7 linked regions of the Homo sapiens genome follow. The protein of the gene in region 4 purifies or fractionates together with the protein of the main gene of each other region. This does not show direct contact. Each region holds a gene or a part of one and is shown on either strand. Other genes may lie near its edges. The genes, in order: FAM83D, MADD, RIPK4, BBS7, ZNF518A, CNKSR3 and ALMS1.

Evidence for each region.
Region 1: the proteins of BBS7 (region 4) and FAM83D purify together in Homo sapiens (affinity purification with mass spectrometry; 2 studies listed by BioGRID and IntAct, with this or other methods). This does not show direct contact.
Region 2: the proteins of BBS7 (region 4) and MADD purify together in Homo sapiens (co-immunoprecipitation; 3 studies listed by BioGRID and IntAct, with this or other methods). This does not show direct contact.
Region 3: the proteins of BBS7 (region 4) and RIPK4 purify together in Homo sapiens (affinity purification with mass spectrometry, with the first as the bait; 2 studies listed by BioGRID). This does not show direct contact.
Region 5: the proteins of BBS7 (region 4) and ZNF518A purify together in Homo sapiens (affinity purification with mass spectrometry; 2 studies listed by BioGRID and IntAct, with this or other methods). This does not show direct contact.
Region 6: the proteins of BBS7 (region 4) and CNKSR3 purify together in Homo sapiens (affinity purification with mass spectrometry; 2 studies listed by BioGRID and IntAct, with this or other methods). This does not show direct contact.
Region 7: the proteins of BBS7 (region 4) and ALMS1 purify together in Homo sapiens (co-immunoprecipitation; 3 studies listed by BioGRID and IntAct, with this or other methods). This does not show direct contact.

The regions. Positions count from the first base shown.
Region 1 is NC_000020.11:38,950,344-38,953,962, forward strand, and holds the end of FAM83D (protein FAM83D), read left to right. Parts: intron 1-1,195; coding exon 1,196-2,177; 3' UTR 2,178-2,763; downstream 2,764-3,619.
Region 2 is NC_000011.10:47,268,559-47,273,229, reverse strand, and holds the start of MADD (MAP kinase-activating death domain protein), read right to left. Parts: upstream 3,098-4,671; 5' UTR 2,984-3,097; intron 2,574-2,983; exon of another isoform or gene 2,250-2,573; intron 2,152-2,249; exon of another isoform or gene 1,988-2,151; intron 1,269-1,987; exon of another isoform or gene 1,120-1,268; intron 1-1,119. Other genes in the region: NR1H3 (oxysterols receptor LXR-alpha), read right to left, coding at 4,534-4,671. UniProt on the Homo sapiens protein: Guanyl-nucleotide exchange factor that regulates small GTPases of the Rab family. Converts GDP-bound inactive form of RAB27A and RAB27B to the GTP-bound active forms.
Region 3 is NC_000021.9:41,763,938-41,768,565, reverse strand, and holds the start of RIPK4 (receptor-interacting serine/threonine-protein kinase 4), read left to right. Parts: upstream 1-1,513; 5' UTR 1,514-1,524; coding exon 1,525-1,706; intron 1,707-4,628.
Region 4 is NC_000004.12:121,828,905-121,832,833, forward strand, and holds part of BBS7 (BBSome complex member BBS7), read right to left. Parts: intron 1-3,929.
Region 5 is NC_000010.11:96,157,643-96,161,571, forward strand, and holds part of ZNF518A (zinc finger protein 518A), read left to right. Parts: coding exon 1-3,132; 3' UTR 3,133-3,929.
Region 6 is NC_000006.12:154,388,422-154,392,350, reverse strand, and holds part of CNKSR3 (connector enhancer of kinase suppressor of ras 3), read left to right. Parts: 3' UTR 1-3,929. UniProt on the Homo sapiens protein: Involved in transepithelial sodium transport. Regulates aldosterone-induced and epithelial sodium channel (ENaC)-mediated sodium transport through regulation of ENaC cell surface expression.
Region 7 is NC_000002.12:73,455,254-73,459,182, reverse strand, and holds part of ALMS1 (centrosome-associated protein ALMS1), read right to left. Parts: coding exon 3,888-3,929; intron 2,081-3,887; exon of another isoform or gene 1,857-2,080; intron 1,243-1,856; exon of another isoform or gene 1-1,242. UniProt on the Homo sapiens protein: Involved in PCM1-dependent intracellular transport. Required, directly or indirectly, for the localization of NCAPD2 to the proximal ends of centrioles.

The sequences.
Region 1 (3,619 bases), on a different chromosome or scaffold from region 4:
CTATTGTGGTTGGAGAGAGTATGATAATGAAAGCTTTCTGGGGTACAGGTGGGTGTGAGTTCTGCTAGCAGAGGAGGGAGGCGGGGAAGGGACACCGTACAGGCAAGGGCACATGGCCACTAATCAGCTCTAAAATGTTTTGAGCCATGGTGTTTTGTGAAAATGGCAGCACAGCCCCATGACTGTGGGTCCTCCACTGTTAGTGAGGAAGACTACTTCAGCAGCCACAAGGACAAGCTTGAGGGCAGGAAGGCCACTGATGTTGCCACTCAAACAGTAGCAAGGAGCAGGGCATTAGCAATTCATAGGGCCTAGGGTCTGATCTGGAGTCCAGCAGTAGCTCCCCTCTGTGATAATCCCTTTATCTGGTTTCCTTACCTTTAAGATGGGGGTGCTGGCCTAAATAGTTTTCTTACCTTTAAAATGGGGATGCTGGCCTAAATATTTAGAAGCCCTATTTTTTATTTTTAATTAATTTTTTGAGATGGAGTCTCGCCCAGTCATGGAATCTCGCCCAGTCATGGAATGTGCAGTGGTGTGACCTCAGCTTACCGCAACCTCTGCCTCCGGGGTTCAAACAATCCTCCCACCTCAGCCTCCCGAGTAGCTAGGATTACAGTCATGCACCACCACGCCTGGCTAATTTTTTATGTGTTTTTACTGGAGACAGGGTTTCACCATGTTGGCCAGGTTGGTCTTGAACTCCTGACCTCAAAGGATCTGCCCACTTCATCCTCTCAAAGTGCTGGGATTACAGTCATGAGCCACCGCGCCTGGCCCCCTTTCCAGTTTTTAAAAACTCTGAGGCAAGGACCAGGTGAGGTGGCTCACACCTGTAATCCTAGCACTTTGGAAGGATGAGGTGGGAGGACTGCCTGAGCCGAGGAGTTCAAGACCAGCCTGAGCAACATAGCAAGACCCCGTCTCAAAACAAACAAACAAACAAAAAAACCCTCTGAGGCTGAGCATTTAGTGTGTTTGTTAAACAGTTGGCCTTTTTACTTTTATGGTAACACACATAAATGTTATATATGTGTTAAGGCTAGTTAAATACATGCAAATGGTAGGTATGATATCACCAAATTTGTGACCCTTATGTGGTAAGATACCTGTACTATATTATTCAGATGGACAGTGAGTAAAACAAAATTGCTCATCCTTACCAGCTGCTGTTTGTTTCTTTTTAATCTTTAAGTTTTACATGGACGGATGGCAAATTAAACAGCAGTAACTTGGTAATTCTGTCTGGCCAAGTGGTTGAACACTTTGATCTGGAGTTCCGAATCCTGTATGCCCAGTCCAAGCCCATCAGCCCCAAACTCCTGTCTCACTTCCAGAGCAGCAACAAGTTTGATCACCTCACCAACCGAAAACCACAGTCCAAGGAGCTCACCCTGGGCAACCTGCTGCGGATGCGGCTGGCTAGGCTGTCAAGTACTCCCAGGAAGGCGGACCTGGACCCAGAGATGCCCGCAGAGGGCAAGGCAGAGCGCAAGCCCCATGACTGTGAGTCCTCTACTGTTAGTGAGGAAGACTACTTCAGCAGCCACAGGGACGAGCTCCAGAGCAGAAAGGCCATTGACGCTGCCACTCAAACAGAGCCAGGAGAGGAGATGCCAGGGCTGAGTGTGAGTGAGGTGGGAACACAAACCAGCATCACCACAGCATGTGCTGGTACCCAGACTGCAGTCATCACCAGGATAGCAAGCTCTCAAACCACGATTTGGTCCAGATCGACCACTACTCAGACTGACATGGATGAGAACATTCTCTTTCCTCGAGGAACTCAATCTACAGAAGGGTCACCAGTCTCAAAAATGTCTGTATCGAGATCTTCCAGTTTGAAGTCTTCCTCCTCTGTGTCTTCCCAAGGCTCTGTGGCAAGCTCCACTGGTTCTCCCGCTTCCATCAGAACCACTGACTTCCACAATCCTGGCTATCCCAAGTACCTGGGCACCCCCCACCTGGAACTGTACTTGAGTGACTCACTTAGAAACTTGAACAAAGAGCGGCAATTCCACTTCGCTGGTATCAGGTCCCGGCTCAACCACATGCTGGCTATGCTGTCAAGGAGAACACTCTTTACTGAAAACCACCTTGGCCTTCATTCTGGCAATTTCAGCAGAGTTAATTTGCTTGCTGTTAGAGATGTAGCACTTTATCCTTCCTATCAGTAACTGCTCCGTGTTCAGACTCCTGGTTTCTTCCAGGCTTACAGTGGACATCATCAGCTTCCTGCTTTAAAAAATATCTTATGTCCCTAATTGCCTTTCTTTTACCTGACTTTGTCACCTTTGTTGTCTTTGAATTCTTTAGGCTGCATATTATTTTACATGCTTTGTTTTGTCATGTATATACCAGGTATTGGTTTTATGGTTTAAACACTATGGATACAGGGGTTTGTTTTGCACAATTTTAATAGTCATGCACTACATAATGATGTTTTGGTCAATGACAGACCACGTATATGTTGGCAGTCTCATAAGATTATAATACTGTATTTTTACTATACCTTTTCTGTGTTTAGATACAAATACCATTATGTTACAGTTGCCTACAGTATTCAGTGCAGTAACATGATGTACAGGTTTGTAGCCTGTTTTGCATTTTTCTTAGGTTGTATGCTCTTCTGTTTTAAAGGTTTGAATCACCAGCATTTTTGTGATCAAAATCCTATTTAGAAAAAATAAAACTACTTTCTGTTTATCTCTTTAGAATATCTGTGTTCTTAGCATTAAATAAATATAAACTTGTGCTTCTGTACTTTTTCCCCCCCTCTGACACTTTTCTCTTTAAATCTGGGAGTATGTCACAAATTAATGCACCTAATAGATATAGGTATATAGATATCTATATCTGAAGGTTTTTTAAATAGTGTCAGGGTGAGGAAGAAGTAGATGATCCAAACTATAGAAGAGAAAATAGATCCACTTAACCTTCCTCAGCATCATGAATATTGATGTTACTCTATAGTTTAAGTGAGGAAACTGGCCAGAAATAGCAGGCCTTTGCACATGCTCTGCCTTTTCTCTTTTCGAAGAAAAAGCCTGAGCTATTTCAGTAGGTCCTTGGTACTCTGGTACTCTGCTTGTCTACCAAAGGAGGCGTTAGTGTATGTTCCTATATTCATTCCCAATATTAACTCTGGTGGCCCCATGGGCCTCATTTCATCAGCTGGGTGTATTGACAGTGATTTAGCCATCTAATATCCCAGAGTAGGGGCAAAAGAGGACACTGACAATTATCCCAGTTTCCTGGTCCAGTGGCAGGCAGTGTAATGGTTTCTACATCCTTCTAATCAGGATTGGTATGGCTGTGGAATCCTGTTTTTGTCTCATTCTCATGGACAGACAAAAGGGAAGAGAGTTAAATGATGCCTTCCTCCCTCTCCTGACTTAGCTACAGCAAAAAAGATCTATAACAGGGGAAGGTGTCTGCCACATAAAATGCTGATGCACTTGTATCATGAGTGTCCCTACACTCACGCGTGTGCCAGGACTTCCTTATGATGGTCAGGCTATTTGCTGGGTTAGTGCTGTAATCTGTGGCTATAAAGAAAAGGAAAGGAAGGAAATTGATCCATGTCTGCTTAGAAACAACTCTGAGCTAAGCCTCGAGT
Region 2 (4,671 bases), on a different chromosome or scaffold from region 4:
GTCATTGTAACAAAAATTGAAGTCACTCTCAGGATCCCTCCAGGGTGGATCAGGATCAAACCAGACTCCTCAACTAGCTAGCACTAACCTGCACTTCTAGGTCTAGATGGAAACTTAATTATTCTGTTTCAACAATCTACATTCAGCTTGATGTAAAACTACCACATAGACTGTCTAGTTAACCATGCTCAGACAATAACAGCTGGCTATTCTACCTCATGTGATCTCAAATGAAAATGTCCATGCCCCAATTGCCTAATCTGCACCACTTTTCTCCCTCCTTCAGGCAAGAAAGGAGCCCAGAGGCCACTGCTACTAGCTCTGCCCTTGGTGCTGAATCATAATCTCTCCTCTATTTTGATCTCAGGCTCAGAATCAGTAATACAATACCCACAGATGAGTCCTTGTCCTACTATACATTACAGAGGCTATGAATTAGAGGCAGAAATACCAGGATTTCTGCAAGGACAGGGAGACGTGCTCAGAGAAATTTCTAAACTATGTCCTAAAATTAGGAAAAGCTTTCATGGTCTTAATTATAATTTATTTCGTGTTAAGTGTCTATACACTTCTCTAAATAAAACGTTTCACCCCGCTGCACAGCTATTTCTGGTAGGGCTACTTCTTCTATGAGTAGAAGTTCTTTTCTCATATTTCTAGTGTTCCAGGATTCTACCTCTGTGCTCTACATGCGGCCTAAGACCTTGTTCAATGCACACGGAGAGAAACCCATTATCGTATACACACACACACCCTCTACTCCCTCACCTGCTGCTGCGGGCACTCCCATATATACAGACATACACACTCCCTGGATGCTTAAGGCCCTATTTGGTTTAGGTAATGAGTAGAAGTTTTTTCTCCCCTACCTAACAATAAACAAGACCTATTTGCAATACCTCTCAAATCCTCAAAATACTGCTTTCTCCTTTCCCTTGCTCCCAGTAGAGGACCTGCAGGTAATAGGATTCAGTTTTATCTCTATAGCGACTCTGGCTCCCAGCACTATTTATAGCAGAGCCACAGCCCCTCCCCTGCTTGGTGACCGCACAGTGCTAGCAGCTGCTACTCCAGAGTCAGCCAAGGCCCATAACAATTCACTCTCCTCGAACCTAGAGACACTTCTCCCACTGACAGTACCTGCTAAGAATTAGGTTGTCTTCTCCCTCATCTGTCTGTAGTTTGTACTTCGTCCTAATTCTGGCTTTTGATAGTGATATCTCTAGAACACCACCAGGTTTCTGAGCACGCCATATATTCATTTCTAGGTATCACCACTGCTTAACGAACCCAAATAGTCCCTTGGTTCTCCCAACTGCAATAGAGTCATGAGCAAACTGCAGGAGGTGGGGCACTATAACAGAGCCGCACTCAGCTCCTCCTGAGCAGAATCCAAGGGGGAGAGAAATAGAGAAATGAAATGGGATATGAGTAAAAAGCATAATTTGTTTTAATAAAGAATTATGTAGTTAACCTGTCATGGGATTCGAAAAAAAAAAAAGAATTATGTAGAAATGACTAGAGTGAGAGCCAAAGTATCTTAAAGTAAAACAGAATTTATAGAACCAGAGCTCTAGACTACACCTTGCAATCTATGTTTACATTGAAAACCCGGAGCCCTCTCCAACCAAAATCTCAAAGATCAGGCCTGAAGCACCTCCTACTGAGTACGCATCAGGCCTCTCTAGCCTTGGTGGGATCTCAGTCCCTCTCCACTGACAACTATCTGACGAAACTCAAGTCACTCACAATCATTTCCTTCCAGAGCCACAAGGACCCTGAGATCTTGTTATTATTCTAGCTACGGGTGGTAGGATAAATTTTTAGCCAGAGTTCACATCTGATCAGCAGCCACTGCCTTCAGTTATTCAGATTGCAAAGATAACTAAGATTTTCCTTCTCATTCTCTCCTCTCTCCCCTCCCCAAAAAGACTAACACCTTTAACTCCTCTAAAGACTAAATCCTCTAACATCACCCACAACTCACACTCTTGTCTTCACAACCAACGAGGCTCCGACTCTGCCTCTTGCCTCAACCATGTTTACTAACGTAGAGCCTCTGGTTCCTATCTTCCTGTATTCCAAAAGCATCCAGCTCAAAATGCATATCTATCTGCTGAAGTCCGACATCACCATCAGCTCCACCCAGAGGTAGATTTAGGATTCACAAACTTTTAAGTTATCTATGCCTTTTCAGCAGAAATAGCCATGCTAACCAACCCTTTGGATTCGTCCCTCATTTTGGACAGGATCTCACAGTAAAACCACAGGAACCAGAGAGCGATATGACATCTCTGCTGACGTGAACACAACAGGAGGCTCTCCTCCCCTCCTCTACCTCCCCAGGCAGTGACCTTGCAAGCTCATCAGCACAGACTGGTCCAGCGTATGGGAGAACTGGAGCAAGGAGGCTGGCAGCTGGCAGGGTTGGGGTAGAGGGGAGGGCAGGGAAAGGTGGAAGAAGGTAGATACACGAGGATGGGGAGGAGAGCGATTGCAGAAAGATGAAATGGTGTTCTCTCTCCAGCAAGTCAATTTTGAAATATCAAGTTAAAAAAAAAATTTCTTGAGAACCAAACGTGTTTCTCCAAATTCTAGCCAAAAATAAGGCGCAAGCACGCACACGCACAAGCACACCCGCCAAGCGCTGTGCGGGTTCGGCCCCAGGGCTGGCCAGCTCTGCCCGCCCCCTCACCTGCTGGACAGTTCTCCCCCGCCCCCGCCCCCGCCCCGAACCTGAACCCGAGCCGCCCGCTCGGCAGGAACCAAGCCCAGTAGCCTGAGCCCCCTCCTCTGCCCGGGGCGCCCCCATCCCCGTCCCCGCCCCTCCTCGGCAGACCCCCGTCCCCACGCCCCTTCACACTCCCCCAGGGCCTCCTGAGAGACCCCTTCCTCCAAGAGCCACGGTGTCCTCTCAGAGCCCGTCTCCCGCTCGGAGTCCCCAGACGCTCGCCCAGGACCCCACCGGCCCAGACTCTCCTACCTCCCAAGCTCTGGGGGACTGGCCAGGCCCAGCCCGACGTCCCCCGGCAGCGGGGCGTCAGTCGCTCCCCAGCGCGGCGCCGCTCCGAGCGGGCGCCAGTTCCGCGTCTGCACTGGGGGGCACGCACCACTCGCGCGGGGTGCGGAGGGGGAGGCCGGGGCCGGGGCCGTACCATTCAGCCCGGGGGGCCGGGGCTGCACCGAGCCGAGCGCCGCGGGGCGGGGCCGACCTCGGGAGACAGCGGCTGCGCACAGACCTAGCCTAGCGCCCGTGGGCGCGGGAGGGCGCGCCAGGCCGACCCAGCGCCGTCGCGTGCCAAGTGGGGGACCCACAGCAGTACCTTCTGTTTGGGTTGCTCAGAGAGACTCTCACCCGACGGGGTCATAGCGCCCGTTTCGACGACATGGGGATTCCTCTGAAAGTCACTTCCCAAGATAATCGGCCCCTGAGACTTCCTGACGGGCTCCCCATCCCCCAGTCCCCACCCCCCACTCACGCGCTTTGGCGGTGCTCGGCGTCCGAGCAGGGAAGCCGGCTGCCGAGCGGTGGAGCCTACCAATCCTGGGCAGCGGGGGCAGAGGGGGGCGCGCGGCCGCGGTTACCTCCACCGGGCGCGCGCGGGGAGTGGGGGGGCGTGGCCGCGCCGCGGCGCCCGCTGGGAGATGGAGTCCAGTCAGTCCGCGAGGACAGCCCCGCCTCAGGACATCCTCCCCGCGGCCACACGGCTCTTCTCTTCCTGTCCCAAAGGGCCTGGGGACCGACACTGGGTTCTAGGTCTTTCAGGTTGTGCCTTTTTCAGATGCCAAAGGAAAAACCAAGGCATGCTACACATGCACGTGAGGTGCACCGCCGACGCCTTAGCGCTGAAATCCAACACTTCCTCCTCCACCGCAGAAAGGCAACCGGATCCTACCCGGATCCCAGCAGGGGAAGGGGGCGCCTAAGCCTCAGCATTCCATTTACCCATATGGCGCAGTGGGGGTTAGTAAGAAGAGGCCCCCTCTCACGGCCAAGGCTGTCATTTGTGACTCTCCCTCCTCTGGGCCTGGAGGCGGATCCTAAAGATCGCAGGCTTCCTCCTCTATTACCGTGTCCCCACCCCCAATCCAGAAATTGGTTTCTCTCATTTTGTATTCATTTTGATCTTCCTGTTCAAACAGTACCAGACCTATCAGTGAGGCGGCGCTGAGGCATTTATGGCCATACCACAGAGTGACAGTGGAGAATTTTTCTTGGGGCCCTGTGGGAAAAACAGGAAGTGGTGGAGGCAGGATGGGCAGGGCTCTGGAGAACCCTGTGCAAAGTGGCCCCCAGGCCCATCCGTTTGTGGGGTCAGCATGATCTTCAGACACAGCACAGTGTTAGCGAGGGCTCCACTGCTCAGTAGCCACAAAACTCGCAACCCTTTGACTCTCTTTTAATGCCACGGGAGGATCTCCTTGCCCAGCTCCCAGGAATGTTTGCCCTTCTCAGTCTGTTCCACTTCTAGGAGGCAGCCACCAGGCCTCAGCCATCCGGCCAAGAAAACAGAAAATATGGGGACAGAACAGTCATTCGTGCACATCCCAGATCTCAGAGAGCAGCGGTGGGAGCTTTTTGTCCTGCAGACGCAGTGCAAACACTTGCTCTGAGTGGACGCTGCTCAGGGTCCGGAGGCTCACCAGTTTCATTAGCATCCGTGGGAACAT
Region 3 (4,628 bases), on a different chromosome or scaffold from region 4:
ACAGGTGACTCACTTTCAAGTCCATTCATTTTTTTCCCACCAAAATAATAACTATGTTTACTTCCAAGGTATCTTCGTAGATTCAAAACTCCAATTATTTTTTAAAACATTAGTCCAAATGTAAGTTACATTTGTGACAAGCTTAAAACAACTATTTGCCACTCCAGCCTTAAGGAGACCAACTTTAATTTCCGGAGTATGTGGGAAAGGAAGTGGCTCCCTGGTCCCCCCAGGAGGCCCCCCGAGCAAGCATCGTCATGTTGGGATGTGTGAGTTCCCTCCAAAGAGCGGCCGGATGGGAGTGGGGAGGCAGTGGGGAGACGCGGCTCCCCGCTACAGGCTATGAAAGAAGGTCCGCGCCCGTTTGGAAGGGGGAGCCTGGAGACACTAGGTCTGCGGCTTTCAATGCGCTGACTTGGGGCAGCCTCTCTCTTTCCGAGTTACTAACACAAAAACACAGTTAATGTCGTTAAAATACCCTCTCCTTTAGCTCCGCCCTCCTGTCTTCATTATTAATCTCCTGTGGCCAAAAATAAGCCTTCACTCACCGTTGCGTCTCAGGAATGAGTGAGTGTTTTCTGAGGTGTGGACGCGTGCGTGATCTGTGATGCACTTCGGCCTCTAACCCAAATATCCTTCCAAGGCTGGGAATTTTTTTTCCCCATATGTGAAAAAAAAATCTTTCCTTTTCAAACCATCTGTTCTACCTGTAAAAAGAGGCTGTTATTTAGGAAAGGATGAGGGAACTCTTGCATTTGAAATGGACTTTAGATTTGCTGTTGGGTAATTTTTTAAAAAAAGTTACTTTCTGAGAGGAAACTCGTGTAAAAAAGCAAGACGTGAACCTGCAGGGAATTAGACTAACGAGTGAAGAAAGCCAATTTCAAAAAATTAGGCGCTGTATGATTCCTGTATCTAAACATAACATTTCTGAAATAAAACAATTTTAGAAATAGAGGAAAGATTAGTGATGCCAGGGCTCCGGGGTGCGGCTGTAAAATCGCCACAGGAGTGGCCAGGTGGGGGTGGATACGGGAAGGTACACAGATGATTACATTGTGTAAAACTAATACATGCAAAGGAAGACGAGTAAAACGGCAAAACTGAATAAGATCGGTGACTGTATCAAAGTCAATATCCTGGTTGTGAGATTGGACTTTTTTTTTTGGCAAAGTTTTGCAAAGTGGTAACACTGGGGGAAACTAGGCAAAGTGAATGATTTCTTACAACTGCATGTGACTCCGCAATTAAGGAAAAAAAAAAAGCAAAGAAAAGCAGGGCAGCTGATGCGCACGTCGAGACCCGTGAGAAGCGTGAGAAGCTCTGCTCACCCAGGGGAGAGCGCAGTGACCCGCAGCGTCTATTCATCCGTCCGCAGTCACCGGGCGCTGGCAGAGAGGGCGCCCGGGGGGCGGGTAAGTGGGCGGGGCCTGGGGGCGGGACGACCTACGGAAGTGACGTAACAGGGCGGAGCGCGCACCTGGGCACCTGGGCAGCCGCCGCGGCGCTGGCTAGACGTGCGCGATGGAGGGCGACGGCGGGACCCCATGGGCCCTGGCGCTGCTGCGCACCTTCGACGCGGGCGAGTTCACGGGCTGGGAGAAGGTGGGCTCGGGCGGCTTCGGGCAGGTGTACAAGGTGCGCCATGTCCACTGGAAGACCTGGCTGGCCATCAAGTGCTCGCCCAGCCTGCACGTCGACGACAGGTGAGCGGCCCGGGCGGGGCGCTGGGGCGGCTGGGGCCCGGGCTGGGGTCGGGGTCGGGGTGCTCTGGTCCCGGGGTCCTGCCTCTCTCTCCCGAACTCACCCCCGGAGCAGCTTCGGGGGGGAAACCAATTGCCGGCGAGGCCGCGGGGCTCCGACAATGTCCACTCGGCCTGTCCGGGCCGGAGGGGCGCGGGGGCTTTGGCGAGCCCGGGCTCGATCGCGCACGTCGGGGCCGGGTCAGGCGGCTCCTCTGGGGCTCCTCTGGGGCTCCTCGGGGGCCGCGTCTGCCCGGACGTCCTAAGGCGCCCAGTCGTGCTTCCTGACACTCCCCGAGTGGCCCTGGTTTTCGGGGTCTCCAGCTCGCCTTGCGCCTCGGACCCGCGCCCTTGGGAGGCGCGTCCGGCCCGCCCGGGACCCACCGGGGCGCTGCGGTCTGCGCAGGGCTTAGAAAAATTGCCATGTGGGCCTCTGGGCTTTGTGAGTGGAGTTAGCCTCCGTTCGACTTACTTAGTAATTTACGTTGGAACACAAATTGGTGTAAGACTGTAATTATTTCGGTCGGAAGCTTCGGCTTGGCTCGGGCGAGGCTTCCCGGGCGCCCGGCGCTTGCGCGGTGGAGCTCCGGGGCTCGGGCCTGGCAGTGGGGTCCGGCACGGGGCCCGGGGTGTTGATCCGTCCGCCCAGCGCTTCCTCGCCGCACACTCTCGTTTTAGCTGACTTAATTTCGAGACCGACCCGCTAGGGAAGGGCCTTGCATTCAAGTTCTGTGGCCGTGCCATGGGGCCCTCCTGCACCCCAGTTTCCCAGTCCAAAAGTCAGAATGGAACCTGCCTGTACCTACCTAGCAGGAGTGTTCAAGGTAACAAAGACGAATGGGAAGGACGCAGAGCCGCCCGTGTTAAATTCGGTGGGTCGGTTGTCGTCTGTGCATAATTTGAGAGGTAGGGAGAATGTTCTTGAACAGTACCTCTTTGTTGTTGTAGATTTCACTGTTTACAGTTGATTTTGATGGTTCATATGTAAGGCTCAATTTAGCACGTTTTAATTATTTATCCTTTAATGAAGCTTACCTTCTACATGGAAGCTATGCTTGTATTTTACCTAGAGATTCCTTGAACACATACACTCAGAAGCGACACCTTTTTAAAATACCATTTAGCCTTTGCTGCCTGGCAGACCTGGTTTCGAATGCTCGGCTGATTGAGTGATGGGGCCGCTAAGCCCCAGCTTTTCTGCAGAATCGTTGTGATGCCTGTGTCTGGGGTGGCAGTGCGTGCTGCAGCCCCATACCGTGACTGTGACGCCTCTGTGGATGAGAGGCCTGTCCTCTCCCTTTGCATTTTCGTCCTTGGCTAGGAGACTACACAGCAGAGATAGTGGTGGCTTTTTGCCGTAACCCTCAAATCCAGTGTTTCTTGGAAACACCAGTAGAGTGGTGACGAGTGTCATCAAATCACCACTAGTTCAAAGGTGAGATGCTGGCCCAGGCTGTGCACTTTTTCTCCCCTGCCTCAGATTCTGGGAACTTCTCAGGCCAGGAGGGGTGCTGTGGTTATTTTGATGAAATCCAAACCACTTTGAATACCAGCCAGTGGTTAGGTTCTGAAAGGGAACCCTCTCCATAGGGGCATTCGTTTTATCTCTTGGGGATGTGTGTGAGCTTTAATCATCAGTGAAAATTTTCACACCACTTTCTTATATTGGAAGAGCAAAGTAAACAAGCACCTACCTGGACTGACTCACCAGCTCACATCCTTAGGATCTTCTGTTATTTCTAGCGACCAGTCCCTTATTTCTTGGGTGGCCTGGTTGGAGGGAGGCTTTCTCCACTTAAGGTGGATCACTTAGGATATTGCATAGCTTGGTTGAAAAGTGTTTTGTACTTTAACTGGAAGCCTTTCCTACCCTGCCCAAAGCAGACAGGTGGTGGCATGTCAGGTGGCTAGGTCGAGGTCAGCATCGCCTAGCAGGAAGCATTTCACCTCCTGTGCTCTGCTGGGCCTGGTAGAGTAGGTTGGGGCTTTGCCATGTGCAGCAGTGGCTGATCTTTCTGAGAAGTTGGTCAAACCCTGGCTCTTTGTGAAGCTGATTCCTTTAGGTTAATTATTGACTGTATTGAGCCTGAGGTTCTTGTTAGGAATGTACATCAGTCCCACTGTGCTCCAGGAGCTGGTTGCATTGCAGTCTCACAAGGTTGTACCTAGGCCTTGAAGTAGTCGCTGTGCCACTTGCCCTGCCACATTTCTCAGTGCTTTTCTGACGAGCTGCCTCCCACCCCAGCCCCTCATATTTGCAAGATGTTCCCTGAATTGGGGCATAGGATTCTCCTAGGGTCTTTGTGTGCAGCCCCCGGCCCTGTACCCCTTCTGCCTAAGTCTTGCTTCTCTTCTCGGAGGGACAGCCCCTCTCACCCCTGACACACGGGTCTGGGCCTCTTCCAGGCTGCTGGGGGTCAGTGATGGTCTAGTCCACTTGTTACATAGGAGCCACCACAGGTACAGGTGCAGGTGAGGCTGATTTTCACTGGCCAACGCTGCTTGCCTCTCAAGGTGGTCTGGGGTCTCCTGGCTCCCTGCAGCTCCCCTGGGCCAGGCCTTCAGCCGGCCCTTGGCCACAGCACCTGCTCGGGGCTTGTTTGATGAGCAGGCTGCGCCAGGCCATGTGAGCTTGCTTTTCTGTGCAGGAAAGGTTGGGGGGCCGCCCAGCCCCCAGACACTTAGCGAGGCTCCCAGGGACAGGAAGTGCCTGCCAGGGGGCCCTCCTGGGAGTTCACAGGTGACACCCCATTGATCTGAGATTACCTTCATCATGGGGCTCGGTGCCTCGGAGGGTCCTGTGGGGTGGCTTTGGAGAGGCAGCTGGCCTCCCTGGCTGACCCTCATTGTGGGGGTCACAGGGCCTAGGGTGGGGTGTAGGGATGG
Region 4 (3,929 bases):
TTCAGCTTCTGAATATACTCGTAAAACTAAACAAGATATATGCCTCCTAAAGATGTGACAATTTATATAAAAACTTCATTTAAACAACTTTTATCTTCATTTTTCACTAATATTTCCAACAGCTAGTCTCATATATAGACATATATAAAATGCACTTAGAATTGCTTACTTACATAAGTATGTTTTTCTTTCATGTAATCACACAAATTACAGTGTGACTATATGCTTTATCCTTAAAAGAAATCTGATATCAAATATGAAAGAGTGACATCTGCTGTTTTTCATGCTCAGCATCCAATGCCACTGCTTATGGTCAGAGGACCATTATTTTTCTTTTTTTTTTTTTTTTGAGACGGAGTCTCATTCTGTTGCCAGGCTGGAGTGCAGTGGCGTGATCTCCACTCACTACAACCTCCACTTTCTGGGTTCAAGCGATTCTCCTGCCTCAGCCTCCCAAGTAGCTGGGATTACAGGCACATGCCACTACACCCAGCTAATGTTTTCGTATTTTGAGTAGAGATGGGGGTCTCACCATGTTGGCCAGGATGGTCTCGATCTCCTGACCTTGTGATCCGCCCACCTTGGCCTCCCAAAGTGCTGGGATTACAGGCATGAGCTACTGAGATTACAGGCGTGAGCCACCACGCCCGGCCAGGATCGTTATTTTTCTTTAGGGTACCACTCCTCTTTCTCTTGCCCTCTTCAGTTTCAGTGGCAATGGTCTCAGTCTATTTCTGGGACTTCAGGAGGAAGCATTGAGCAGTACATTCCATACCCCTGACCACAGTGGTTCATGGCTTAACAATGATACTCAATCCTGGGACTTTTATTGGAGCCAGTGGGCAAGAGAAGCTCTATAGCAGCTGAAAATATGTAAGACTGGATTCTAGGAACTGCTGGTGGCCATAACACTGCATGGTAAAGCCAAGAAAAGATAAAAGCAGAACTGAACAAGGGATAAAATCTTGATGACATCAATTAAGCCACTGATCCAGTTGTGCGTGAGGCAGATTACTGCTAGACTTTTAAGTTATGTGAGCCGATAAATTTATTTTATTTGGTTAAGCTGCTTGCATTTGGTTCCTTTTTACGATGACCAAGTTTCCTAATTAATATATATCATCTTTCATATAGTTAATGTTACCTTTTCATTTGGTTTTCACACACACACAAATGATGTATACCAACTAGCTATATGCAAATGATAATTGCTTTGGTCCGTTGTGGTGGCTCACGCCTGTAATCCCAGCACTTTGGGAGGCCAAGGCGGGCAGATCACTTGAGGTCAGGAGTTCGAGACTAACCTGGCCAACATGGTGAGACCCGTCTCTACTGAAAATACAAAAATTAGCCAGGCGTGGTAGCACACTCCTAAAATTCCAGCTACTCAGGAGGCTAAGGCATTAGAATCACTTGGGCCTGGGAGGAGGAGGTTGCAGTGAGCTGAGATTGAGACACTGCACTCCAGCCTGGGCTGATGAGTGAGACCCTGTCTCAAAACAAATAAAAAAAAAGATAATTTTTTTTTCTAGAAAGATAAATAATACACCCTTACTACTTTGATCTCAATTATGTTTTAGAAATCATGACATTTCTATTAGTCTTTAATCTTAACAGATGATATTTAGTAAACACATAGTGCCAGGTACTATAGAATGACTCAAATGGTTATCTTCTTTTAATCATCATAACAATTCAATAAAGTAAGTGCTATTATTTTCATTCCTCAGAAAAGAAAACTGAAGTTCAGAGAGTTAAGCAACCAGCTAGGGTCACACAGCTGGTAAGTCACAGAGCCAGGATTGAAACATTAGTACATCTGCCTCCAAAGCACATACTTCTACACTACCTCCATACACATATATTTTATTCAGGCATCCGAAAAACATCTGTTGAGTACCTATTATGTGCAAAACTATGTTTTAGGTCCTTGCAGGCTACATACAAAGATATTTAAAATTAGACTGTCCATGAAAATAAAGTTTAACTTAGAGAAATAAGTTTGTATAAAAATTATTAGAGGCCGGGCTTGGTGGCTCATGCCTGTAATACCAGTACTTTGGGAGGCTGAGGCAGGCAGATCACGAGGTCAAGAGATCAAGACCATCCTGGCCAACACGGTGAAACTAGTCTCTACTAAAAATACAAAAATTAGCTGGGCGTGGTGGCACATGCCTGTAGTCCCAACTACTCGGGAGGTTGAGGCAGGAGAATCACTTGAACCCAGGAGGTGGCGGTTGCAGTGAGCCAAGATCGTGCCACTGCACTCCAGAATGGCAACAAAGCAAGACTCTGTCTCAAAAAAAGAATAAAATAAAAAATAAAAAATTATTATATACTTTAAGCAGATAACAATAAATATCACAGACAAGTAAGAAAAAATGCTATGGAAACAGAGAAGAGAATCAAGGGAGAATCAAAGAAGGCTTCAAAAATGTAGCTACTGCAGGATGCAGTAGCTTGCACCTATAATCCCAGCTACTGGGGAGGCTGAGGCAGGAGGATTGCTTGAAGCCAGGAGTTTGAGACCAGCTTGGGCAACACAGTGAGACTCTCTTAAAAAAAAAAAAGTAGCTATTAAGTTGGACCTTAAAGGATAAACAGTTTTGAATCTTAAGAAAAAATACTCAAAGACACAGAATGATAAAAGAGCAAAGGTCTGCTATTATAAAAGTATATAATATGCTAGGGGCATGTTGAATTGTCTGCTATGATTAATGTGTGAGGTTCATTGTGGTACTTCAAAATGGGAGTAATTATTACAGGTTTAGACACAGATAAGCTTCCTTGGACGGTACAGTGAAAAACCTCCACAGAATGGATGTTAAAAACCAATTAGATTTCTGAAGAGTTCTTGGTTCTAAAAGGCTGAATTCTGAGGTAAAATTATGTTTTTAGAATAATACTGTTATTATCCTAAAATAACAAGAGAAGCAAGAGGTATTCTACTTCTTGCTCTCTAGTTGAGACTTTACCATGCTAAGTTTTTAGAACTTAGGAGAAAACCACAATAATCTGCTTAGGGAAAGAACCTTAAGAGGCAGAGGCAGAGAAAGAATAATGAGCTCTCTCCCAGACAAATAACACAAAGCAAAAAAAACAAAAACACACACACACACACACACACACACACACACACAAAACAAACAACCTACAGGCCAGGTGTGGTGGCTCACGCCTATAATCCCAGCACTTTAGGAGGCCAACGCAGGAGGATTGCTTGAGCTCAGGAGTTTGAGACCAGCTTGACCAACATGGTGAAACCCTGTCTACAGAAAATAAAAAAATTAGCTGGGCATGGTGGTGCATGCCTGTGGTCCCAGCTACTCAGGAGGCTGAGGTGGGAGGTCAAGGCTGCAGTAAGCCGAGATCATGCCACTGCACTCTAACCTGGGTGACAGAGTGAGATCCTGTCTCAAAACAAACAAACAAAACAAACAGCAACAACAACAAAAAAACAAAAACAAAAAACAACCTACAGATGTGAGAATGAGAATGCAAAGACTTTGAAGAAGCAGGAGGATCCAAGCTTAATGGGTAGAGGTAGAGATATTGGCCTTGCCCAAGAAGTAGGCCATTTCACATTCAGAGACAGGTTAAAAAAAGGAAGGAAAAGTTTAGTTTCTACTATATTGAGAAGTTGAGAGGAATTATTGGAGCTTATAGAAGATGAGTTAGAAGTGATGGTGGAGGAGCGAGGGGTGCAACTAGAAGCTTGAGAAGCGTATAGAACAATATAATGACCTCCGCACCATATCAGGATAGCTACAAAAAGCCTGCATTTTCTAAGCCCTGAAGTTCTAAGCCATGTTATATTTGTGCATAAAGAAATTCAACTGGAGTTTTTATTGGAATTAGGATAAATATTCAAATCAATTTGGGTAGGACTGTCATCTTTTACAATGTCTTCATATTGATGACTATAGAAT
Region 5 (3,929 bases), on a different chromosome or scaffold from region 4:
AATGCTACGTTTATGGGCTTCAAGATGATGGATGGAAAACAGCATATTGTATTAAAATTGGTGCCTATCAAACAAAATGTATGTTCACCAGGCTCACAGTCAGGTGCTGCAAAGGACGGTACTGCTAATTTGCAGCCCCAGACTTTGGACACTAATGGATTTTTAACAGGAGTAACAACTGAGTTAAATGACACAGTTTATATGAAAGCAGCTACTCCATTTTCATGTTCATCTTCTATACTTTCAGGGAAAGCAAGTTCAGAAAAAGAAATGACTTTGATATCTCAAAGGAATAATATGCTTCAAACAATGGATTATGAGAAAAGTGTATCTTCTTTGTCAGCAACATCAGAATTGGTTACAGCATCAGTGAATTTGACCACAAAATTTGAAACAAGAGATAATGTTGACTTCTGGGGAAATCATCTCACTCAGAGTCACCCCGAGGTATTAGGTACCACCATTAAAAGTCCAGATAAAGTCAACTGTGTTGCCAAACCAAATGCATACAACAGTGGAGATATGCATAATTATTGCATTAATTATGGCAACTGTGAGTTACCTGTTGAATCCTCCAACCAAGGATCATTACCTTTTCATAATTACTCAAAAGTGAATAATTCTAATAAACGTCGTAGGTTTTCAGGAACAGCAGTGTATGAAAACCCTCAAAGAGAATCTTCATCCAGCAAAACAGTTGTCCAACAACCAATTAGTGAATCATTTTTATCACTAGTGAGGCAGGAGAGCTCAAAACCAGATAGCCTATTAGCATCTATTAGCCTTTTAAATGATAAAGATGGAACTTTAAAAGCAAAATCTGAAATTGAAGAACAGTATGTTTTAGAAAAAGGACAAAACATTGATGGACAAAACCTGTACAGTAATGAAAATCAAAATTTAGAGTGTGCGACTGAAAAATCTAAATGGGAAGACTTTTCTAATGTCGATTCACCTATGATGCCTAGAATCACATCTGTTTTCTCTCTCCAGAGCCAACAGGCATCAGAATTTCTGCCACCTGAAGTAAACCAATTGCTTCAGGATGTATTGAAAATAAAACCTGATGTAAAACAAGACTCTAGTAACACTCCAAATAAAGGCTTGCCACTTCATTGTGACCAGTCATTTCAAAAACACGAGAGAGAAGGCAAAATTGTTGAATCTTCGAAAGATTTCAAAGTGCAAGGCATCTTCCCAGTTCCACCTGGCAGTGTGGGTATTAATGTGCCTACAAATGATTTGAATTTGAAATTTGGAAAAGAAAAACAAGTGTCATCAATACCACAAGATGTGAGAGATTCAGAGAAGATGCCTAGAATTTCAGGTTTTGGCACATTACTTAAGACTCAGTCAGATGCGATAATAACACAGCAGCTTGTAAAAGACAAACTACGAGCCACCACACAAAATTTAGGTTCTTTTTATATGCAGAGTCCACTTTTAAATTCAGAACAAAAAAAAACTATAATTGTTCAGACTTCAAAAGGATTCTTAATACCATTGAACATTACTAACAAGCCTGGGCTACCAGTTATTCCTGGAAATGCACTTCCATTGGTTAATTCACAAGGTATCCCTGCTTCTCTTTTTGTAAACAAGAAACCTGGGATGGTTTTAACACTTAATAATGGGAAACTTGAAGGTGTTTCCGCTGTCAAAACCGAGGGTGCCCCAGCTCGTGGAACTGTGACTAAGGAGCCTTGCAAAACACCTATTTTGAAGGTAGAACCAAACAATAATTGTCTTACACCTGGACTTTGTTCCAGCATTGGCAGTTGTTTGAGCATGAAAAGTAGCTCAGAAAATACTTTGCCATTAAAAGGCCCTTACATTTTGAAACCAACGAGTTCTGTGAAAGCTGTTCTTATTCCTAACATGCTATCTGAGCAACAGAGCACTAAGTTGAATATCTCCGATTCAGTAAAACAGCAGAATGAGATTTTTCCAAAACCACCTCTTTATACCTTCTTGCCTGATGGCAAACAAGCTGTTTTTTTAAAGTGTGTGATGCCAAATAAAACTGAGCTGCTTAAGCCCAAATTAGTCCAAAATAGTACTTATCAAAATATACAGCCAAAGAAACCTGAAGGAACACCACAAAGAATATTGCTGAAAATTTTTAACCCTGTTTTAAATGTGACTGCTGCTAATAATCTGTCAGTAAGCAACTCTGCATCCTCATTGCAAAAAGACAACGTACCATCTAATCAGATTATAGGAGGAGAGCAGAAAGAGCCAGAATCTAGAGATGCCTTACCCTTCTTACTAGATGACTTAATGCCAGCAAATGAAATTGTGATAACTTCTACTGCAACATGCCCAGAATCTTCTGAGGAACCAATATGTGTCAGTGACTGTTCAGAGTCCAGGGTATTAAGGTGTAAAACAAATTGTAGAATTGAGAGGAACTTCAATAGAAAAAAGACTTCCAAAAAAATTTTTTCAAAAACAAAAACTCATGGAAGTAAAGACTCTGAAACTGCCTTTGTATCTAGAAACAGAAACTGTAAACGAAAGTGTAGGGATAGTTACCAAGAACCTCCAAGAAGAAAAGCAACATTGCATAGAAAGTGTAAAGAAAAGGCAAAACCTGAAGATGTCCGTGAAACATTTGGATTTAGCAGACCTAGGCTTTCAAAAGATTCCATCAGAACTTTGCGGCTTTTCCCTTTTAGTTCTAAACAGCTTGTGAAATGTCCTAGGAGAAACCAACCAGTTGTAGTTTTGAATCATCCTGACGCAGATGCACCAGAAGTAGTAAGTGTAATGAAAACTATTGCTAAATTTAATGGACATGTACTTAAGGTTTCATTGTCAAAAAGAACTATAAATGCTTTACTGAAACCAGTTTGTTATAACCCTCCTAAAACAACTTATGATGATTTTTCCAAGAGGCACAAAACATTTAAACCTGTTAGTTCTGTGAAAGAAAGATTTGTGCTAAAATTAACACTCAAAAAGACAAGCAAAAACAATTACCAGATTGTGAAGACTACCTCTGAAAATATTTTGAAGGCTAAATTTAACTGTTGGTTTTGTGGTAGAGTATTTGACAATCAGGATACTTGGGCTGGTCATGGGCAGAGACATTTAATGGAAGCTACTCGGGATTGGAACATGTTAGAATAGTTTACCATAATTACCAAGGAAAAGAAAAGTAAAATTACCTTAGAAGAAAACAACGGGTTCAGTTACCATAATGCAGACATTTTCTACTTCAGTATAGTACCTGAAATCGAACATTTTAAAAGTTGATTGTATTTCTGTGGAAGAGTAAAAGTTGTATGTATGATATTTGAAAATGCTATCCCTGCACTCAAAAGTTTTGAAAGAAACTAATCACAGCACAGAAGTACCTTGATTTAATTTTTTAAACGTGTTCTCGGGAAGTTAGGGCTAAAGAAAATTTTGATAAAACAATTTTCCCACTTTAGTTCTTTAGTGACTCTTAGTAGAGGGTAATGGCTGACACCCCCATTCCCTCTCTTCTTCCACCAGCCTTATGCATCTAAGTGTAGCTCCTCTGGAGATGGAGAGCTCTTTCATCGTAGAACTGAAGGAGTTTCTCACATTTGTGAAGATACTTTGAGAGAACCTGGGTAAAGAAGTCACTCTATATCTGCTAAATATAGTTATTTTGAAGGATATTAGGCTCCTTGAAAGTACATTTAACTCACTACAGTTACACCTCATACAATGCTTGAAGAGTTTTTGGCAAGTAAATTTTTTTTCCAGTTGAACTCTGTCACTTGTTAGAGATTGGGAACACTCTCCCAAGGTGATTTTCTTTTTCTAAGTGACTGTGTCAAATGTTGCAGTAGATGGGCAGCTTCAAGAGAAGAATTTAAACTCTTTGTCTCATTGAAAGTTTGGTTAAAGAACTTGAACATATTTCTAAATTTGATTATATTCTCTGATGATCCCTT
Region 6 (3,929 bases), on a different chromosome or scaffold from region 4:
TTACCATGGAATATTCTGCAGCAAGTAAAAATGAATAAATTACAGCTATTCATATCAAAGAGATGGATTTTATTAATATAGTGCTGAGTGGGAAAAAGCATCAGAAGACAACATATAATGGTACACTCTTTTTTTTTTTTTGAGATGGAGTCTCTCTCTGTTGCCCAGGCTGGAGTGCAGTGGCTCCATCTCGGCTCACTGCAACCTCCACCTCCCAGGTTCGAGCGATTCTCCTGCCTCAGCTGCCCGAGTAGCTGGGACTACAGGTGCGCACCACCACACCAAGCTAATTTTTGTATTTTTAATAGTGACGGGGTTTCACCATGTTGGCCAGGATGGTCTCTGTCTCTTGACCTCATGATCCGCCTGCCTCAGCCTTCCAAAGTGCTGGGATTACAGGCATGAGCCACCATGCCCAGCTACATTCTTTTTAAACATTCAGAAACAGGTAAAACTGAAAAATATATAATTTAGACACAACACTTATGTGAAAAGACCAAGTTTAGGATGTTGGTTACCTGTGACGGGGCAGCAAGATTGTGGGAAAGGAAGGAAGCTACAGGTATGTGACAGAGAGTTGCATTAGCCCAAATCTCTACAGAGCTGGTGTCAAGGATGAAACTATTGGTGTTTTATTTGGAAGATACAAGCCCAAGGCGAGGTGAGAAAAAAGAGAAGGGAAGCAAAAGAAGACACAAAGTGACACAAAATGGCATGAACTAAATTACGTTCTCTCCAAATTCACATATTGAAGTCCTAACCCCAGTACCTCAGAATGTAACTGTATTTGGAGATTCGGTCTTTAAAGAAGTGATTCAGGCTGGGCCTGATTGCTCACGCCTGTAATCCCAGCACTTTGGGAGGCCGAGGCAGGCGGATCATGAGGTCAGGAGATTGAGACTATCCTGGCTAACACGATGAAACCCTGTCTCTACTAAAAATACAAAAAATTAGCCAGTTGTGGTGGCAGGCGCCTGTAGTCTCAGCTACTTGGGAAGTTGAGGGAGGAGAATGGTGTGAACCCAGGAGGTGGAGCTTGCAGTGAGCCGAGATTGTGCCACTGCACTCCAGCCTGGGTGACAGAGTGAGACCCCGTCTCAAAAAAAGAAAAAAAGTGATTCAGTTAAAATGCAGTCATTATGGTGGGCTCAATCAAGGACATGTGGACACAGATATGTATGCACATGGAGGAAAGACCATGTGAAGTCGGGGAGAAGAAAACCAGCTACACACTAAAGAAAGAGGCGTCAGGCCGGGCGCGATGGCTCCCGCTTGTAATCCTAGCAGTTTGGGAGGCCAAGGTGGGCAAATCACTTGAGGTCAGGAGTTCGAGACCAGCCTGGCCAGAATGGTGAAACCCTCTCTCTACTAAAAATATAAAAATTAGCTGGGCGTGGTGGCATGTGCCTGTAATCCCAGCTACTTGGGAGGCTGAGGCAGGAGAATCACTTGAACCCGGGAGGTGGAGGTTGCAGTGAGCCGAGATGGAGCCACTGCACTCCAGCCTGGGCAACAGAGTGAGACTCCATCTCAAAAAAAAAAAAAAAAAAAAGCCTCAGAAGAAACCAGTGCTGCTGACACCTTGATCAGTCTTCCACCTGCAGAGCTGTGAGAAGACACATTTCTGTTGTTTAAGCTACCCAGTCTGTGGTATTTTGTTATGGCAGCCCCAACAAACTAATACACAAAATGATGCACAGCCTTGCTGACTATCACTTCAAAATGAGCCAAACAGAGACACAACGGGGCACTAGGCAATTGTGTCCCACTCAGTGAAACTTCTCTGGAAAGCTGTAAGGTATAGTCCAGAGACGAGAGGAAGGGAAGAAGAAATTTATCCTCTGGGAGCCTCCCATTTCCTGTCTCCTAATAGTGAGAATTTTTCCATGAGAAGTTAATGTCCCTATACTTTCACAATGTGTTACCTTCTTTTGTTGCTGTTCAAGATGCCAAGCCTATGCCCTGCAGTGTGGCCTTTTGTCAGAGTCCATAAAGGGCAGGAGGAACTAGGAACTCTGGGTGTGTATGGTTGGCCCAGCTGCAGAGTTGACAGTCAAGGGGATAACCAACTCTAATCAGCCTAGAAGGGAACTTGGTAGCCTAGGTGAGTTGGTCAGGCACAGGCTGGGGCTAAGGCAAGGCAAATGGCTGAGGTCTAAGACGTAGGTGGTGCTGAGAAAATGTGGGGAAGCATACAAGATTTGTGACTGATGAGTAATATTCTAGTTCTTGGTTAGGATAATGGGTACATGGGGTGTTCCTTTTATTATTTTCAAAATGAAATGAAATAAAAGAGGGATATGTGTGGACTGATGATGATGTATAATGAATCAAAGATTATGATTAACTTAACTCTGCATACTTGAGTTTGTTTATTTTTCTATAAAAGGAGAATAGCAATATTAAGTCTTACAGCCCAGGAATGAAATGTCTTTCCATTTGTTTGTGTCTTCTTTAATTTATTTCATCAGTATTTTGTAGTTTTCAGTATACAAGTCTTTCACCTCCTTAGTTAAGTTTATTCCCAAGTATTTTATTATTTTGGGTGCTATTATATATGGGATTGTTTCGCTAATTTCCTTTTTAGATAGTTCTGTGTTAATGTATAGAAATCGCAACTGATTTTTGTATGTTGATTTTGTATTATGCAACTTTATTGAATTCCTTTATTCTAACATGTTTAAAAAATGGAGTCTTAGGGCGTTCTATATATGAGACGATGTCATCTGAAGACAGGGACAAAACAATTCTACAGTCCATATGAAACCACAAAAGACCATGAATAGCCATATCAATCTTGAGAAAGAAGAACAAAGATAGAGGCATCACATTGCTTGATTTCAGAATGTATAACAAAACTACAGTAATCAAAACAGTATGTTACTGGCCAACAGATAGACATATATGTGAATGGAACAGAATAGAGAGTCCAGAAATAGATTCACATGTATATTGTCAACTGATCTTCAACAATGGTGCCAAGAATACATAATGGGGAAAGGATAGTCTCTTCAACACATGGTATTGAGAAAATCAGATATCCATGTGCAAAAGGGGGAAACTGGACTTTTATCTTACATCACATACAAAACCCAACTCAAAATGGATTAAAGATTTAAACATAAAATCTGAAGCTGTAAAACTCCTAGAAGAAAACATAGGCGAAAAGCTCTTTGACATTGGTCTTGTCAATGATTTCATGGATATGACCCCCAAAACACAGGCAACAAAAACAAAAATAAGCAAAGTTACATCAAATCACAAAGCTTCTCACAGCAAAGGCAACAATCAACAGAGTGAAAAGAAAACCTATGAAATGGGAGAAAGTATTTGCAAGCGATGTATGTGATAAGGGTTGACATCTAAAATATGTAAGGAATTCATAACTCAATAGCAAAAAAAAAAAAACCCAATTTTTACAAATGGGCCAAGGATCTGAATAGCATGGGCTCTGGCATCTTGAACAGCAATGAAAGAAGCTAGTTGACACATTGCGAGAGTATAGGGATATTAACCTCTCATGGGCAAATTCTCATCAATGAGAGGAAATGGGAGGCTCCCAGAGGATAAAAGGTGCTCATCATCACTGATCATCAGGGCAATGCAAATCAAAACCACCGTGAGATATCAACTCTCACCTGTCAGGATGGCTATCATTGAAGAACCAAAACACAACAAATATTGGTGAAGAAGTGGACAAATTGGAACCCTTGCATACTGTTGATGGGAATGCAAAATGGTGCAGCCACTAAGGAAAACAGTATGGGTGTTCCTAAAAAATGTAAAAATAGAACTGCCATGTGACCTAGCAACCCTATTTCTGGATATTTATCCAAAAAAATTGAAATCAGGATCCCAAAGAGGTATTAGCATTTGCAGGTTCATTGCCGCATTATTCACAATATCCAAGATACACAAACAATCTAAGC
Region 7 (3,929 bases), on a different chromosome or scaffold from region 4:
CACCAGATAAATTCAATTTGAGGGAAATCTGCAAAGTAACTAGGTTGTACTCTTCAAAAATGTCAGTCATGAAAGAAAGAAAAAACAGAAGAAACACCCTATACTAAAAAAAAAATCATTTAAAACATGACAAACACTGAAGTAATTTATAACAGGTTTTTCATCAACATTAATATCTACAGGGACATTCAAAAGCTGTATGTGACAAGGGACAACTCTTCATTGTGTGGAACTGTCTTGTACATTATAGAAATAGTAACATACCTGACACCTATCTACTGCATTCCAGAAACAATCCCCAATTACAGTGATGACCCAAGAAAAATCACATAATTTTCCAAAATATCTCTTTGGGAGGCATTTACTACCCGTCAAGAACCACTGCCTTCCACAATCTAGTCTTCTCCCTTTCACTCTCACTCTCCAAACACACTGGCCTCCTCCCTTTCCTTTAACACTCCCTTTCCTTTCACACACTTTACCTCAGCAACTGTGTGCATGCTATTTCTGTCTGGAATGCTCTTGTCACTGTTAACTGCCTTACTTTCTCACCTTACTCAGATATTTAATTCAATACCTCTTTCTCAGGTTCTGTGTTGACCATTCTGCTTTGTCTCCCTGGCTCTTATCCCACCATCTGACATTTATTTTACTTGTTTGGTTGTTATTCATATACTCTTCCTTAATGTAAGCTCATGATGAAGAAATGTTTGTCTATTTTGTTCAGTGGTGTGTCCTCAGGCTATAGATGAGGATGGCGCATATCAGGCATTCAATATGTATTTTTGGAATGAATGAATAAATGTCCAACAGTAGGGTAGTGAATAAATTGTTATGTTCATACAATGGGATATTACATACCTGTGAAATTATGCTTTTAGAGAAGTTTTAAAGGGAAATCCTAATATATTTAAGTTAAAAAAATAAAAGGTCCAAAACCGTACACAGTGTGGCCAATATGGGTTCCCTAAGGACAAGGCATATCTAGACAAACACTATTTCGCAACTACTCAGTTAATAGACTGAAAAAAGTCAATCATAAGATGGTGAAACACAAGATGGTTGAATGACAGTATAGTGAAGTACTCAAAATAGGTGTGAGAGTAATCTTATTCAAAAGTTTTAGACCTTTTTTTTTTTTTTTTTTTTGAGACAAAGTCTCCCTCTGTCGCCTAGGCTGGAGTGCACTGGCACAATCTTCGGCTCACTACAATCTCCACCTCCCAGGTTCAAGCAATTCTCCTGCCTCAGCTTCCCGAGTAGCTAGGATTACAGGCATGCACCATGACACCCAGGTAATTTTTGTATTTTTAGTAGAGACGGGGTTTCACCACGTCGGCCAGGCTGGTCTCGAACTCCTGACCTCAAGTGATCCACCCACCTTGGCTTCCCAAAGTGCTAGGATTACAGGCATGAGCCACCGCGCCCAGCCAAAAGTTTTAGACTTTTTATCCATAGCCCTTAGTAAACATTTTTATTGCTAATTTGGATAAAAATACTTATCAAATATATAAATGGCACAAAGCTGAAAGGGATATTTTAATAAAATAAATGATCAAATTTGATTAAAAATCATTCCAATAGGCTTGAACACTGATATAAAAGCAATAAAAAGAAATACAGGAGAGTTAAAAAGTATTACATAGGGCGAGGCGTAATGGCCTGTAATCCCAGCATTTTGGGAGGCCGAGGCAGGCGGATCACTTGAGGTCAGGAGTTCAAGACCAGCCTGGCCAACATAGTGAAACCCCATCTCTACTAAAAATACAAAGATCAGCTGGATGTGGTGTCATGCGCCACTCACACAGCTGTAATCCCAGCTACCCGGGAGGCTGAGGCAGGAGAATCACTTGAACCTGGGATGTAGAAGTTGCAGTGAGCCAAGATCATGCCACTGCAGTCCAGCCTGGGCAATAAAGTGAGACTCTGTCTCAAAAATAAGAAGATTTTTAAAAAAGTATTATATAGATACAAGAAATGAGAATAGGAATCTTGGCAGCAGTTCATGGTTTTTGTTTGGTTTGTTTTGCTTTGCTTTTTTCCTACAGCTTTAAGTTTTGAAAGCAGTACATGGTTTTTTTTAATGCCCAATTATGCTGTGACCATTAAAGATCTCACAGTACATTGACAGAAAGAGAATTACTGAATATACTTCATGCTGGTCAGATCAGAAGTGAAATTGTGTTTCATCTAATTCAGGACACCTTATTTTAAGAAAAACACAGACAAACCAGAGTCTACCCAAAGGAAGGCAACTTGCTTGCTGAGGGATCTGGAAATATGAACGCAAGAAAATAATTTTTAAAAATAGGGAAACACAGATCACTGAGAAAACTATGTAATTTTAAACAAATGATGCTAGGATAGTGCTCACTTTGGCAGCATATATACAAATGGTGCTAAGACAACCAATTGCCCATTTTATTATTCTTATTATTTTGTCAATTTTGTTTTTCACAAGCATATACGTAAAACCTAAAATCCAATCTAATTTGTACTTTTCAAACTTTTCCAAAATTGAGATAATCCAAATAAACTATATCACTGGAGAATAGTTTTCTAAGAAACTTTGTATGAATCAGGCCATGAAATCCTTGCATGATAGCTATATCAATTCTTTCAGGATTAATAATAGTAATAATAGCTGCCAGTTACTGAGTACTAACTAGACATCACACGTTCTACTAAGCATTTTATAGGCATTATCTCACATAATCCACACCAAAACCCTCTACGATAGGCATTATTATACCCTATTACTATGCAAAATAGCAGACAAAATGCCTTATCCACAGGAGAAAGAATAAATTATCATGTAATCACACACTGGAATACTGTACAGTAATAAGGAACAAATGAAAACTCTGCACATCTACATAGAAGCAGCTCAAAACCCTAACACTGTGTGAAACACCTAGTTCTCAAAAGAATATGTATCATATTGATTCCATCTTAGAGTTCAAAACCATACTGAAGAGAAGGAAAATCATTATATATCAAAATAAGAAATAAAAAAGATATGACTGGGAAAGGAGAAACAAAGAACTTCAACAGTATTTGGTAATGTTCTATTTCTCAAGCTCGATAGTAAATATATGGGAATTATTTTTACTTGCTGCTATTCTTTACATAAATGATTCATATATGCTCTTTTCTACATATGAAATAGTTAATAGAAGGAAAATATGTACTATTAAAATGAAAGCCATTTATACATAAGCTATTATAGCTGTGTACTCAAGTATTTAAAATAAACATTTGAAAATAGCTGGATTTCAAGATACCACTTTCAAGAGAAAATAAGGGTGACATTTAGTCTTCTCTGTTCTTAAAAAAAAAATTGATAAAACAAGCAAATCAGTTCTTATTTTTCTAAGAAGATAAATTTTTCAAAATATGAATTTGGAATCAATAAAAACAACATATCTAGACTGTAAGAATCTAATACTTATATCTTAACTTTTGAAAAATTAAGATGCCTGCCTAGGCACAGTGGCTCATGCCTGTAATCCCAGCATTTTGGGAGGCCAAGGCAAGAGGATCGCTTGAATCCAAGCGTTCAAGACCAGCCTGGGCAACGTAGAGACCCTGTCTCTGCCAAAAATTTAAAAATTAGCCGAGCAGGGCGGTACACACATGTGGTCCCAGCTACCTGAGAGGCTGAGGTGGGAGGATTCCTTGAGTCTAAGAGTTCAGGGCTGCAGTGACCTGTGATTGCACTGCTGCACTTCAGCCTGGGCAACAGAGCAAGACTGTCTCAAAAACAAAACCAAAAAAGGCTTTAGCCAAATATTATCAGCAACTCAACTGATGCCCAAGTAAGAGATCCTAATTCCATCACCCATTCTTTCATATTTACTTTCTTCATTTCCAGATTTCTTTTATACCTTGGACAAGTCAGTTGTTCTTCCATGACCAAATAACTCTGC